2 separate regions of the Homo sapiens genome follow, and region 2 is linked to region 1. Evidence: fine-mapped expression QTL. Tissue or cell type: whole blood. Region 1 holds a variant in brackets; the other region holds the start of a gene. All regions are shown on one strand. Distances are from middle to middle.

Region 1 (8,108 bases):
GTGGTGGTTACAGGTGCCAATGCCCCACACAGTCAAAAATCTGCATAACTTTTGCCTCTCCAGAAACTTAGCTACTAATAGCCTACTGTTGACCAGAAGCCTTACTAATAACATCAGTAGTGGATTAACACATAAATAGACTAGTATCTATCCCTATTTTATGTATGCATGACATACCTAACTTCTTAATTTTTTTGATATTTCTAGGCTACACAGTTCATCTGTGAGTGTTCGCAAATTGTTACAAACCTCCAAAATTTTAAAAAATATATGTATTGAAAAAATCTGCATATAAGTGGACTCACACAGCTCAACCCCATGTTGTTCAAGGATTGACTGTGCTCACATATAAATGCACCTCTACATGTGCTCATACATATTCACATGTGTACCCCACATGCAGACACATGGAGCTGTTTGTTTTTAATTAAATCAATCCATTTGTTTACATTCATTGGTTTTTGTGTCTTGCCTCTATAGCCAATTTTGCTCCCAGGCAAAACCAAGTGGGATGGTTTTCTGGGTCCCAGAGCAAAGAGAAGAAGGACTTCCCATTCTTTTCTCAGAAATTCAAGACTAAAGCCATCAATCTAGAACTCATGAGGACAGCTGGCAAATAGTGCTGGAATGGCAGGAGCCCTGTAAGAACCAGCCTTTGATCAGCTCAGCCTGATGTTTAGGTGTGACCATATCATTAACAACCATAAAGAGGTGGGCAGGAGCATGCGCCACCCAGATCCTCCTTCAAGGAAAGACTTGTTGCCCAGCTGACAGCAAGGCTGTCAGCACATCATGCAGAGCCTCAGAGAGAGAGAGCCACCTCGCCATCCCACCAGGGCCTGGCCTCACCCAGTGATGAGGGAATATGAAGGCTTAACTATTTTAGCCCAGTGCAGGACAACTCAAGCTCCCCATGGAGCTGGCTGAGGCTTTGGGGCCTGCATCACAGCTCAACTTCCCTCTCAACTCATTCTGCTTCCTTCCCTTCCTTCCCACAAGGGCACTTCCTAAAAACATCCTGAACACTCCAATATAACTCAGAATCTTCTTCCAGGGGACCCAAACTGTACCAAATAACATTTTGCATGCACACAGAACTTAAGGTTGAAAGTGCTTTTCATCCTCACTATCTTACAAGTGCCTGGCAACATCCCCCCCTCCCTCACTGGGGGACAAACACAGCTGTCCCACGTCACTAATGAGGAAACTGAAGCCCAGGGGGTTAAAGCTTGCTCACGGCCACACAGCCAGACAAAAGACACAAAGCTGGAACTGGAACCCCATTATGTCTGATTTGGAATTCTCCACTCTCTCCATGGCATCAGGCTGCCTGTTGCTCCTGCACGTGTGAAGTGGTGGAGGGTATCTTCTCGTTAAGGATGAAATTCCAGACCCTGCTGAAACAGTGTGGGTGTCACTGCTCCCTGGCATCCTGCTGCTGTCATCCTGCCCTCCCCATCGTTCCCATTCCTTCCTCTAACTCCTACAGAATGCAGACCTGAAGATGAGGCCCACAGTCACAAGCTGGTTAGGGATGGGTCCAGGCCAGAAGCCTGTGATGTGTGTTCTCATTGTTAAGCAGACAATGAGAAGACTGGTAAGGAATTCCAGGACTAATGAGCCAACATGGCAGATACAGCCCATGCTGCAATGGTCCCCCTTTATCTCCAAATACAAAGTAAGGAGCAATGCCACTTAAGACTACAAGCCATGCTCATAATGGGAGAGGAGCATCTCCATGCACAGAACCACAGAGGGTTGGGAGTGAAGGGGTGAGAGGGAGTGTGGGAAGGAGGAGGAAGCGATGCAGAATCATAGTTGTAAACAGAAACCAAATCACACCACACGTGGGAGCTGGAGACAGATTCTCAGAATCTTCTTGGGAACCACACATGGAGGGGGCTGGAATCGAGCAACCCACATGAAAATGAGACTAGGGTCATGCTACCTACTCTGAACACCAGCCTAGCCTCACATCCTCAGTGGATAGATAGAATTCAATCCTCGGGAGCCCCACTCTACTGATCTCCCAGAGGGCAGGGCCATGCCTGGTGCAGAGCAGGAGCCTAGGGCACATTATTTGACTGTCTCCCAACCAGTCCCACTGTACCATGTGCTCAGAATCACTGACCCCAAGGGGCTGGGCCTCTGAAGCCCGAGCACTTGAAGGGAAGAGAGCTCCCCAGGGCTTCTCATCATCTCTGCCTCCCACCCCAGCTCAGACCCACATAAAGCCTTGGCCCAGGCCCAGGCTGGTCCTTGGTGATCAGAGCTGCCAATGCACTGACTCATTGCTGGCAGCCTCTCAGGAATTTTGGAAAAGGCAGAGGCTCAGGTGACTTTTGTTGTTTCAGCTGGGACCAGAGAAGCATCTCTGCTCTTAGGGAGGAAAGAAAGGCCTAGAAGGGGAAAGGCAGTGGGAATGGTCACACTGGGGACAGGGGAAGGAAGGAGAGCCACACAAGGGGCCAGGTCCAGGGTGCTGCTGACCCAGTTTCCGTGGGTCCCTGGCCTCCACCTGCAAGCTGACCACACAGCATGGCTGGAGCCAGGAAAGCCCCACTGGCTCATCAGCTCTGCAGCTTCCTCCACCTGGCCAGCCTTCCCTGGACCTGCATTGTCCACCAATCCTGCTAAATCTCCAGGCCAGACGCCCATAAAGGCTCCTGTGTGTTATGTCAGGCTATTAGCACCCCCTGTGAGTCCAATGCTTAACAATCAGACATTTCACCAAGACAAGCCTAGGTCTGAATCCCCATTTTCCTGCTTTGTGGCTTTGGACAAGTGGCTGAAATTCTCGGTACCTTCCTTTCCTTATCTGTAAAATGGACTTAACAGTTTTAACAGCCACAACTGCTCATCAGCTAGTACCACCAGAATGGTCAGGGTTTTTTTATAAGGCCAGCATCTGTTATGGTTGGTTGCAGCCTATGCCAATTCCTTGCTAAGTATTTCCAACACCCGTTTATGGCACTGAATTGTTGTAAGGATTGAAGTGATGTATAGGTAGGGACAGGCATGTAGCAGTACTCAGTTCATGGTACCTATTACTATAATCTCTGATGCCTAATAGGCTCGTGACACACAGATACGGGAGGGAAGAAGGAAAGAGGAGACTTAAGGCAGAGATTTTGATGGAGGTGAGGAGAGGGCCACATGTGAGCACAGGACTGGGGAACTCTGGGGAGAAGAGAAGCAGGGCCCCATCTCACTTTTCTCCCCTTTCCCACATATTCCCTATTATTCCAGCCCATTGTATTAGTCACTCTTCTGTGAGTTTTCTGCCAACTCCATGATTTTGAATGTGCTGGTCCCTCTGCCTAGAATTCTCTTCCTGTTCTTCACTACTTTCTGTTTGTCCATAAAGGCTCATTTCACTTCCCCCAGGATAATGCATCCAGGGCCAAGCCACAGACTCTAAATGATCCCACTCTTCCCCAGGATCTGGGAGTGACACTGGACGGTGGTCACCCACTTTACAGAAGGCTTCAAAGTGAGCCAGGGGTAGGGTTCTCAGCCAAGAAATGCAAAATACATCCCTGGAAGATAATGACCTTGTTGGAGAGGGAAGGTGTGGGGGACTTTGCACAGGCTTCAGATGCCACAATAGGGAAGAGGCAGACAGGCAGGAATGGCTGGCTCATCTCTGAAGACCGTGCAGCTCGTTTGTCTTGTTTACAAGATGCCAGGGATTATTTCCAGCTGTCGGGGGTCAACTGCCCTCTCTCTCACCCACCACCACCACTACACACACTGAGTAGCAGTTCTAGGCCTTTCCTTGATCTCTCCCCCTGCC[A/G]TGAAACTTCCCCTGGTCTCTTTAACCTTTTCTCTCCTCTGTTCCCAAAGCCTTCCTTTTCACTAAGTCCTGTATTCTGAGGCTGTTCTTCACTTCCAGGGCTGTTCCTAGTCCTGAAGTTCATGTGGATCTCATGTATCTGGCTCCTCCGAGATCTCCCCTTTTAGCTGTTGCAACAGCCGAACCTCCAGAGAAGCCAAGAAGATGATCATCATTCCTTCTGGTTCTTTCCAAATTGTGGCAAAACAGGCCTAACCCTATCTTCTCCATTGGCCAGAGAAGTGCCCTCTAGAGAGTCCAGGAGCTCCAGAAAATTCCCTTATGACACAAAATTGCACTGAAGTAATGTAGAAAGCCTTTGCTTGGTGTCCAATAAAGGGGAATCTGAATTTTTGGAACACTTATGCTAGCAACTCCTTGAGAGTTTTATTTGAGAACAAGACTTTTATTTGTCTTTATTTATTCAAGGCCTAGCCCAGAGAAGGCCCAGAACAAACACTCAGCACATACTAATGAATAAATGAATGGCAGTATCTACTGTAGAAAGGTAATTCTTATGGATCGTGGAAGCAGGTGTGGCCTCATAGCAGAGGTTGTTCTGTCCCAATAGGGATCCAGGCCTCCAAAGCCACCGTGGCCAGACCCTGACAGAGCCTAACTCTTTCTGTCCTTCTTGCTGCCTGGGTCAGAAGTTTTCCCTTACCTGATAAAGCAGTAAATTCTTTCCTCCAATAATCTATTGTTCAGCATGGCAACTCCTTTAACTTTGTCAAATCTGACTATTAAAAGCAGAAACTACATTTTCAGCATGTCCTTTTGTGCTATTTCCTGAAGCTACAACCTCAAGTACTCAGTTTGCAGGAAATGTAATTATGGAAATCTCCCTCTGGAAAAAAAAACTTCTTTTTCTTTTACCATGAATAGGAACAACCTGCCACACTTTCAGCTGCCCATGGCATTTATGGGCACAAGTCATGTTCCAGCACATCCCTGGACCCATGGGCTTCTCAGAGTGGTTACCTCGAAACAGCTAAGTAGCTTCCTTTCCAGTTTTAAACCCCTAGTGCATAGCCCAAGAGCACCCCAAAAATGCAGGTTAATGATGGAGATAACTTTATTTGCCAAATTTTGTAATTTGGAGCTTAAGAACCACTGTTTTTCCTCTTGAGTTCTGGCCTGTACCAAGTGCAGAAATAGCTTCCCAAAGGAAAAAAATGGGCAACAGTACCAAATGCTGCTGAGAGGTCAAGAAAGAAGAAGGCTGAGAACTGATTACTGAATTTGGCCACCTGGAGGTACTTGGGGACCCTGACAAGAGGTGGGTCAGTCATTTGATTGGACTGGGTTTCATGGGGACCAAGGAGGAAGGAACTAGATGCAGTTAATATATTCAGCTCTCTAGAAGAGTTTGCCTATAAAGGAGAGTAAGAAATAGGGTGGGACATATAGGACCAAGGGAGGGCCTTTTAAAGATGGAAGTTTTACAGTGTATTTGTATGCTGATGAGAATGATCCAGTAGAGAGGGCAAAATTGAATATGCAGGAAATAGGAGTGGGAATAATGGGACAAGTAGGCAAAAATGATGGGATCCATTAGACAAGTGGTGCTTTAGCTAGAAGCAGGGAGGCATCGATGGTAACAGGGGGAAAAGCAAGTACTTGGACATTGGAGGCAGAGGGTCTGAAGACTTGGTGGTGAAAGGATTCAGAAGTTCTGTCCTGATTAGTTCCATTTCCCTTGAGCGTCACTCTCCACTTTTAAGGGCAAAAAATAGGAGCACAGTAGTCCCTACTTCATGGAGTTGTTGGGAAGATTAATTGAGCAAATCCTGTGCTGGTAAGCACACAGCACAGAGCCAAGGCCACAGTAAGAGTGATCAATAAATGGCAGCTGACCTTGCATCCTTTTATTGTAATGTGTGACTCTTTCCCATCAGATTTCCCATTGTTCTGAGCTCCCCTCCCCTTCCAGAGGTACAGCTGAATGTTGACATCTACTGCCTAAGTTCACTTCCCTCTGCCTCTGCTACCACCCTGCTCCGTCCTTCCCCAGAGAAACCCCATAACACCTCTCCTGCTGCCTTCAACTATAGTCAGGAAGGGCTGTCTGAGCAGCAGAGATCATGAAGGGATGGAAGCAAACCTGGGAAGGAAACCCCCAGGTTTCCTTGCTTTGGGTGACTGACAGGGCCAAGCCACCTTTCTCTGTCAATTTCCTCATCTGTACAACTGTTAAATGCCATGATCTCCAATCCCCATCCAGCACCGAATTTCTGTGAGGAAGCCCAGTTATTCAACCTGCAAATAACCCCAGAAGACGGTTGACACCCAAAAAGAAAAAGACCCATCCAGAGTGTAGTGTCTGCGGGATCATCTCTGATGGAATACCTTTGGCGCCATCTGGTGGCAAATGCTTTGCGCAACCCCTCCTTTCAGGGAGGCAAAAGGCTGTCCTGAAACAGACTCCGATGAGCAGAAAACTCCCGCTAGCCAATGGCAGGAAACTAGTACCTCACCTAGAGAGGCCATCTAGTTCAGTGCATCTCAAACTGGAATGGCATACAAATCATCTGGAGATCTTTTTAAATACAAATTCTGACTCCGTAGAACTGAAATGAAAGAGAGTTTTATGGGCGGAGAGTAAGAAGTATGGAGTTACTTGGAGGGAGGCAGAGAAAATAGGGAGTGCCACATAATAAGTGGACTTTGGAGAAAATTAAGGACAAAGGGGATTTGGGGATTTCAGAAGAGGGTCATACAATGCAATTCTCCTCGCCCTTTCTTTAAGTGATTTAAATACTTATTTAAACTGCTTGTTGATACTTCCTTGGATGTCAGCTTGGTGTTTCTTTTGAATGCAGTACAGTGCTGAGCCTGACCATGATATAGTCCAGCTTCATTCAGGTTAGATAAAAAAGTAGATATGGGAAAAGGAGGCATGGTTAAGGATGCCTGGGGTAGCAAGGAATGTCTTGCTGATCATTTGGGCAGTCTTAAGGAATAATGAACTGCAAAATGGTCTTCTAGATAGGTAGAATAGCAGGGGAAATGTACCTAAGTATAAACATGCATGATATGTGTAGGGAACAATGAATAAAGCTACTGGTACATGGAGTACACGGGGAGGCACTGCAGAGGTAGGTTGATACTGATAACATACTTTTCTGTACATAAACTAACAAAAAGTATGTCATGAACAACTGTTTTATAAAAGCCATCACACTTGTAATCATTTAGTAATTTCTTTCCTTACAAACAGAAATGAGCTTGGTCTATTTTGTTACCATGGTATCCTCAGTACCTGAGCCTGGTTCATAATTGATGCTCAAAAAATAAATGAATGTAACAATTTCCAGTGATCTCTGACTACCCACTGTGTTCTACTGTTTTGTGCCCAAGTTTTAGTAAACTGGGAGTTCTCTGATGGCAGGGATCATGTTTGATTCATCTGTCTTCGACAGTGCCTAGCATGGTGCCTGTCACTTTGTAGGCCCTCAGAGGGTGCACACTGTGTACTTTGCAGACCATGGGAAGGATGTTAGGAAGTCCCAGTATCCTTAGCCCTGTCTCTGTGACACTGCCAACAGTTCAGCACTCCCTCTAGGCCACAGCTGTGTGAAGACAGGGGTGCCTGCACCCCATCTTCTGAGAAGTATGATCCTGCATAGAGTCCCGCCTTCTGATGTCCACAATGATGAATGTGCACTTATTGGCCACCAACTGTTTGCTGTACCCCCTATCTCAGCCACTGAGCCAAGTATAAATCTAGGAGAAGGCCCACCCTAGAGCTAGCTAAAAATAAGCCACCTGGAAAACTAGAAACAGAGAATATAGAAAATTCACTCATACTCCCACCCTGCAACCATTAGTATTTTGTAAGTTCCTTCTGGATTCTATGTGTGTGATAAATGTATACTATTTAATGTTCTCTTCCTTCCAGCCAACTCAATGGAACATAGGTTAGTGCTTAAGCACACAGGCCCTAGAGCTTGATTCCCTGGATTCACATCCTGGCTCTGTTATATGATCTTGTACAATTCAGCAAACCATACCTTATTTTCCCAATCTGTAAAATGAGGATGGCAATAATGAGGATTAAATGAATAACTGTCTTCATGTTAAGACATATAAAGTACTTGGAACAATATCTGATGTTAGTGACTAGCTTCACAGCATTTTCCATGTTGCTGCATAATATTCATGATGATCATTTTTAATAGCTATAAAACAGTCTACTGTGTCTACACTGGCTACTTTACTTAATCATTACTCCTTTGTTAGATGTGTAGGTTATTTCCAGGCATTCTGTATT
Region 2 (8,108 bases), 210 kb before region 1:
AGGTGTTCACTTTTATGAGCCTCTTTGCACAATAGGAGAGATTTTCAAAAGTGCAATAAAAGTGAATAGGAGAGATAAAAATAGCAGAGTTTGTGGGCATCAGGGAGGGAGGGTAAGCTGCTGGTTGGCACTCTCGGAAGGCTCATTGGAGGAGGTAGTGTTTGAGTAGAATTGTAAAGGACAGACAGGGCTTCAACTGGCAGATGCTGGAAGCAGAGGAAACTGCTGAGCAAAGGCCCAGAGTTCAGGGCACATAAGCAGAGTGATGAGTATGCAGACCAGGAAGAAATAAATGATCCCCATAATTCTCCTTTGCTGCAAATAATAATAATAATGATAGAGTTGAAGTGCTTACAAATATTACTAGCAGCAATATGAATTTAAAGAGTTCTTTGGGGCAATCATGAACATTAAATGTTGTGCAGAATATTACGAATAAGTTTGTGAAGCAATGGGATTAACTGAAAAATAATGAATTTTATATTCACCTCCTTTTTAAAATCCATGTGTAAGGTCATTAACATCTGCTTTCAGAAGATAAGAGATCTTGTTTTAAGATAGCTGACTGAGTTAAAAATCTGACTTGAAGCCATTTTGTGCCCTTTTAACAATGTACCAAATTTAGTTTCAATTAATTCCACTCCTTGGAAGGTTATGCACAAATTTGAACCACAATTATATTTAATTCAAGAAACTGAGTTAATTCTAAGTGCCAGGCACTTTCCCAGGTATAGAGATGCAAAGAATTATAAATGGTGGTTGTAGTCATCAAGGAATTCACAATCTAGTAGGGAAACAGGTAGATATTTAAATCTCTGTAATCAAAATGGAAAAGCAAAAGTATTAACTATACCTGGAATATGGAACTGTTGGCTGGAGGAGATGGAATGAGATTCCTTCTCTGCCATCCCAAGAAGCATCATTACAATGATGGCAGAAGTCAGTAAATGGGATATGAAAGGAGAGGGGCCAAGACAAATTATGGAGACCCATTAGTTCTATATAGTGCTGGACCAGATCACCAGATCACAAGCCAACTTCCTGGCTGGCTAAGGAAGTCAGAGTTGTATGGAGTTGGAAGAAGATCTGTAATGTTTCCATGGTTCTGAACCTGGTCTCTGAAATCCTATATTCAGCTCTAAAAGTAAGGAAGTTGCCACAAAAGCAGAAATGGAAACCACACGTGCCAATAAAAACAGCTCACAGTTTCTGATCACCCACTACGGGCTAAGCACTTCAACAGAAAATGAGTATTATATTTAGACTTCTAGTTAGTGGTCCCTAGGAACCATTCTCCCCTTCTTCCTTTTAGTAATAGACTCCCCACTGAACTTCAGTAGAGCACATACATGCCTTTCCTACTACAAACAATATTTTCCAGCCCTCCCTGTAGCTTGATATGAATGTGTGACTTAGTTTTTACCAATGGAATGTGAGTAGAAGTAATATATACAACTTTCATGTCACTTCCACAGAACAGATTTGCTTTGGCTGGGCATAGAGGTTCACGCCTGTAATCCCAGCACTTTGGGAGGCCGAGGCAGGAGGATTGCTTGAGCCCAGGAGTTCAAGAACAGCCTAAACAACACAGTGAGACCCTGTCCCAATTAAAAAAACAAATCGATTTGCTTTCCCTCTGTTTCCTTGTTCCCGCTTTCCACGGCTGGGATGCTAACATGGTGTTAGCGCTGTGTAGAGGCGGGCAACAGCTACAGAAGAGCCTGGCAGCAAAAGAGAAAACCTGGGTCCCTGGACAACTGTATGGAACTGAGAAGCCACCACCTCCTCTTGCTACTGCCTTCTGTCACTGCTCCTGGTGGACCTGCCTTTAACCTTTTCTTTCCTGTCACCAAAGAACAAACACACACACAAAACAACATTGTAGAATTATGCCTGGGTTAAGAGAATATAGGCCACAGGTGAGGACATGTAAGAGACTTTTATATGTAAACTGTACAAGCTTTAGTGAATTGATGCTATAAAAATTATGTTCGCTTGTTTGGAAACCTTTGTTGTTTACATCCTGGTTTCAAATGACTAAAGTTACCTATTAGATATCCTCCAGGGGAGGGAAAGGTCATTGTATTCAGCAAGGGCAAACTGGTTCAACAATCAATTTCCAAATATTTGCATGCACTAGATACCAAAGATGGAAACACACATGATCTCTGCCCCCCAAAGATGTTGACTGGTGGGAAGAAGTGCCAATATAAAAATAGTGTTGAAAGGATTTAGTTAATACTATTGGTTGCACACAATCACACATCTGACACAAACTGGTTTAAGGCAGAAAAAAAGATCATTTATAAGCTTATGTAAATATGCAGTCCAAGAGTAAACCTGACTTCAGGGATGTAAACCCTACTGGATGAGAATCTTCATGGATGGGGCCTGGAAAGCTGTATTTTTGCCCCATCCTTATTTCCTACCAGGTAATTGTAATTCTGTTTTGGAAATAACTATTTTACGTAGATCATTCAAGTTGAAAATTAGATATTACACAGGGAGGAGAGAGACTGCAGGAGGAGACGATTATTCCTGAAGGGATGAGGGAATCCTGAACTCAGGCAGGAGCACCCCTTAGCACATTATGGGCCATGATGTCTGCTTGGTACTTACAACGGGGCTAATGCTGGCACCGGGAGCTTTGAAGGGGTGTCAGCAGAGGACCGTGCCAACTGTCTGTCAGTAAGTCTAAGGGTTCACGATCCTTATGAAAGTGGCTGCCACTTCCCTTCACCTAACAACTATTTATTGTGCAACTACATACCAGGCAGTGAGCTAGGCAGTGAGGACACACAGGTTCACAGGCAAAGAGCCTCTCTTCATGAAGCTTACATTCTAGACAGGAGATAGTCAGTAAACAATCAGAAAAACAAGCGCGCTACTGACTGTGTTAAGTTCTCTAAAGAGAAAAACCCCTTCACTCTATAGTTCCTAGTGCAGGCTGACATTGAATGGGATAGAGGAAAGGCCTTCGAGTTGACAACTTAGTGGAGAACTGAGAGGTGGGAATGAAGTAGTGGTTTGCAAGGCTGGAGTATGAGCCTTCCAAGGAGAGGCAATAGCAAGTGCAAAGGCCCTGCAGTGGGAGGGAACCAAGTGGGGTGAAGACACAGGAAGGATCAAGTATGGCCAGAGATCAGTGAGAAGGAAAGAGTAGAGTAGGATAAGTCTGAAGAGGCTGGCAAGAGCCAGTTTATGGGAAATCTTGTAGGCCCTGAAAGTTTGGATTTTATTCCACACACAACAAAGTGTTTGCTTTAAAAGGAATCTCCTGACTACTGTGTGGAGAAAGTATAAAATTAAGTTTGGGGCTAGATGGACCCCAAGATCCCTGTCTGGCCCCAATAACCCATGGCAAACTCCATGGGGTCCTCAGAAGTCCTCTTAGTAACTGTGGCTCCTATGTCAATGATGCTTAATAGAAGTATCCGCAAAAACAGAAATGTTCTGTATCTGCATACAAGTGGCTCTTGAACTGGAAATGTGGCTAGCGTGACTGCAGAACTGGATGTTAAATTTTATTCTATATAGACTAATTTATTTACGTTTATATAGCCACACGTGGCGAATGGCTATTATATTGGACAGCACAAGGCAACACTGAGCACCGAATGCCTGAGGATTTCTACTCCAAATCCTGAAGGCACGCCCTTCCCCGAATGTTGGGAGAGTGCGAGGATATGCTGACCCCCAAACGCAAATCCCCCTCTGTGCATTTAGTCTTGCCAAGATGGAGAGTCTCAGGCGGGCATTCTGAGCTGCTTCTTGTCACTGGGGAAAACCACGTGCACGCAGTGCTGAGGCGCCCCACGCGCGTCCTCAGGGGAAGCCAGGCACTGAGAACAAAGGTTGTGGGACCGCTCTTTGAGGAACTCACCAGCTCCGCGAGCTCGCGGCCGCCAGCGCGGTCCACCCATTGGCGGGAGAGGACTCACAGACCGCAGCTCCTCACCCCGCCTGCTCCGCAGCGGGACCGCGTAGACCTCAGCTCCCCGAGCAGCGCAGGTGGGCCAGGGAAGGAGAGGACCGAGGCAAGCCACCACGCGGGATTAGGGGTACGGGGACCCCTCGCCGCGCAGTCGCCTCTTTTTCACAGGGATGGGGGCAGGGGTGGCGCCGGCTGTCACCCGCACCGGATCTGCTTCCAGGGCTTGGTTTCGCTTTGCCTGGCTCTTGGCTAGGCCTGGCGCCCCGCGCGGAGCCGAGCAGGTGGCAGCCGAGGAGTGGCGGGGGCTGGAACATTTAACCCTTTGGGAGCACCTGCCCTCTCCCAGAGGGCGCGTCCCCGGATCAGGCCCGGTGCCCCGCAGCGCGCGTGGGTCCTGGCTGGCTGGAAGGAGGCCCTGACCTTGCTTTCTCTCCCGTGCCAGGTCTGCCAAGGACCATGGGTGCCGCGCTGGGGACAGGCACGCGGCTGGCTCCCTGGCCGGGCCGGGCCTGCGGCGCCCTCCCGCGCTGGACACCCACCGCGCCCGCCCAAGGCTGCCACTCCAAGCCTGGCCCGGCGCGCCCTGTGCCCCTGAAGAAGCGCGGATACGATGTCACCAGGAACCCTCATCTCAACAAGGTAATGGGCCAGAGGGCAGGACGGCCCGCGTTGCGATCCCGTGGCTGCCGGAAAATTGCGCCCCGCCCCCTGGACCCAGAAAGGATCCTCCCGGGCGCCCTTCCAGCGGTTTTTCTGTTTTTGCCTTGCAGGGGCTTGTTGTGACTTGGTTTGGCTTTCTTGTCCCTCCTCTCCCTTTTATGCGTGGAGAGAGGCGACCAGTAATGCAGGGAGCCTAATTTCTTCTGCAGTAACAACACAGACCAGGTTTAGATCCTCGCGGTCAGTCTGACCTGCGGTCAGCTCTCCCCTTGATGCTTACTAATTTTATTGGTCTTGGGCAGTTCATTTAACCTACATGAGCCTAGGTTTCCTTATCTGTAAAAGAGATATAATTGTCTTAGGAATGTCGTGAGATCTAAAGAGAAAATGCGGGTAGAAAATGGGGGTACGTTAGAACAGTGCCTGGTACCCAGTGGGAGAATAAATAAGGTTATGATTATTATTCTGAGAAAAAGATTAATTTGAGAGCAAGGATGGAAAAGTCTAGACTTATAGAAATTTTCGAGCTTGCAGGAGCATTAGAGATCCTAGTTTAAACCTCTTCTTTTACAAAAAACAAGACAAAGGAAACTTGCCCAAGGTCACCAGCTAGTTAGTTCTGGCTCTGCCACTGGAATCCAGATCTCCAATGCTTTGGTCGAGTTCAACCCACCGCTAGCTCTTTTGTATTTGTTTTTGGGAATAGAGTTTAGTATCTTTGGTTCAGAGGATTGGGTGAGAGAAATAGAAGCAAGGACAGATTTAGTCCTGTCTCCCCCTACCTCCTCAAATTAACTCACATATCTCATTTAACTTATCTGAGGCCCAACTTTCTCCAGCCTAAAATAGATATTATGATAGACCCACCATTTCTATCTCATTTGGTTATTGTGACAATAAAATGAATCACTGAACTTGAAATCATATTTTAAACTGTATAAAGTGCTGAATAACAATTACTGCAAAATAAATTTTTTTTTCATAATTGCTCTGACTCTGGATTGTGAAATTCAGGTGAGGCAGTCTGTATGGAAAAGATGTTTTTGAGAAGTAGGAACAACTATATAATGTGAAGTATTGTGACTGTTTCCTACAGAACTAATAGAAGCGGCTAAGGAAAAAAAAATCAAAATCAACCTCTATCACATTGGAGTCCTGCTCTTTCCAAAAGAAACCTTAAATTGTTTGGACGCTACCACTTTCCAAAGTGTTCAAGGTGTTTGTTATCACCTTGAATTACTTTGCTAGTAAGCGTTAGAAAATACAAACTGGCTTAAGCACACAAAGGCTCCTTTATCTAAAGAATCTAGAGGAAGGGTTGCAGGCACGGCTTGAACCACAAGCCCAGATGGCATTGCTCAAGATGCAGATTCTCTCTGGCTCTCTACTCTGCCTCTCTGCAAGGTCAGTTTCATCCTCAAGCTCTATTCAGTGAAGTCTCTCACTTCGTTATTGCCACAGTCCTCCATCTCCTGTTCTCACACCACATCATCCAGGAATAGAAAGATACTTTTATTCTGGTAGCTCTTGGGGAAGAGAAAATACCCTTTCTCTGACGCCTCAGAAAGCGAATCCTTCTGCCTTATTGACTCTGATTAGATTCTCTCTTCCCATTCCCAAACCAAAACCAATCACCAGTAATTAAAGCCGGTCAGAGCCCACCCCTGGAGTTAAAATGGGGTTTAAGGTAGGGCCACCCACACCATCTGGCTTGGAATAAAGGGAATATAGATCCTCACAGTAAATATGGATAGTGTCATCAGAAGGAGGAGGAATGGATGTAGAAAGCAAAACAATAAATTCCCACTACAGGCTCCAATCATTGTGAAAATAATTGCCTTAGAATTACTGGCATGTTACCAACCAGCATTTATTGCTTTGTTAAGTAGTTAAGAAAATGAAGGAAGATCTTTAAGTCTTTTTTTAAAACCTAGGTTTTGGTCCCCTGAAATCATTCTTGCCCCTGTCGTTTGCCTCTGATGTAAATTTTTTTCTCCCAAGTACTATAAATAAGTTGTTGATATGGTTTGGCTGTGTCCCCATACAAATCTCATCTTGAATTATAATCCCCATAATCCCCACGTGTTGTGGAAGGAACCCTGTGGGAGGTAATTGAATCACGGGGGTGGTTCCCCTGCATGCTGTTCTCGTGATAATGAATGAGTTCTCACGAGACCTGATGGTTTTATAAGTGCCTGACACATTTCCCCTGCTAGCGCTCATTCTCTCTCCTGCCACCCTCTGAGGAGGTGCCTTCGCCATGATTGTAAGTTTCTTGAGACCTTTCCAGCCATGTGGAACTGTGAGTCAATCAAACCTCTTTTCCTTATCAATTACCCAGTCTTGGGTATTTCTTCACAGCCGTGTAAGAACCAGACTAATACAGGTGTTATCCATAAATCTAAGGACCTGACCTTTCCATGATGTTAAACAACATCTTTTATATATTCCTGAAGTCAGCTGATGCTTGTCTGGGATAAGAAGGGTATCTAGAAGGAGGCTGACAGCCTGTTGGCATCCCCTATTCACTCACCCTTGGGGACAGAAGGGGAGCAACAGAGGGAGTGCTTCCTGGGAGTTACTGTGAGTGCCCTTCTCTTCCCACTGGAGTGCCACCCTCTGGCTGTTCTGTTGTCCTCCAGTGCTCAGAGAGTCTCCATGGAAGGCTTGAGCCTTGGTACTTTGCATCAGCCAGGTGGGAAGATAGTGCTGAGGTTAAATAGAACAATGAGGTTATTACTGAGGAAGCAAAATGGAAGTGCAGTTTTGAAAGAGTCTTCAATGCTGTGCTTAGTGTTCATGTCTGTGGGTGGATTTTTTTCTGTTAGAAGGAGAGCCCTTCCAGGCCAGGTAATGAGATTCGTCCACCTGTGTTTGGCATGGGGTAGTGCCTGAAAGATCTAGCTTAACATTAAATTCTTGGAATGTGTTCACTAGATTTGCAGCTCATTTCGACAGATTAGGAGTGGCATTTAAGTCGCAGCTGTATGACAGAGGGTGGTCAGGAGGTGGAATTATCTGAGAGAAGAGGTGCCGACCAGGGCAAGCATTGCTGCTATTGTGCATTCACTGGGTTCTGGTACCAGCTCCATCATGCTCTGGCCATGTGATCTGTGATGAATCTCATAAGCTCCTCTGCCCGTGTTACACTACTGCTTTGAGGATCATAGGAGACAGCCCCCATGTGGTAAATATTAGGTGATAATGAGGATGATTTCCATAATTGGGGTAGGAAGGCCCCTCAGAGATGATCTAGTCTGGAATTGTTCAGACTATGAGTTACAAACTATGAGACATGAAATTAGCTTAGTGGATCTACCAGCAATTTTTTTAAAGAAATGTATTAGAATGAAATAGAAAAATAGCAAATGCATTGAAGTTAATAAAGATGGATATTTTATCAGGTCAGCATGTAAAATGACTATTTTTACTGTGGATTGTAGTAACAAAAAGTTTTTGAAAATAATTGTTCTCATCCAACATTTTCATTTTCCAAAGAAAAGAGAAGCCAAGG

Evidence for each region. PIP is the estimated chance that this variant, and not a neighbour inherited with it, causes the effect.
Region 2: ME3 starts here. The variant in region 1 is fine-mapped to the expression of ME3 in whole blood (TOPMed, PIP above 0.99). The same link has a PIP of 0.9 or more in tibial artery.

The regions. Positions count from the first base shown.
Region 1 is chr11:86,454,372-86,462,479 of GRCh38, reverse strand. The region is part of intron 8 of ME3 (malic enzyme 3); the gene reads left to right. Among named protein-coding and RNA genes, the nearest start is that of CCDC81, 84 kb to the right of the region's middle. RefSeq lists an enhancer at 1,979-2,507. The variant A/G (reference allele first, on the strand shown) is at 3,797.
Region 2 is chr11:86,668,227-86,676,334 of GRCh38, reverse strand. It overlaps ME3 (malic enzyme 3), which reads left to right and starts at 3,719. Exons shown (of 15, transcript NM_001161586.3): 1 at 3,719-4,011; 2 at 4,377-4,573. The coding sequence starts at 4,391. RefSeq lists a silencer at 1,054-1,348.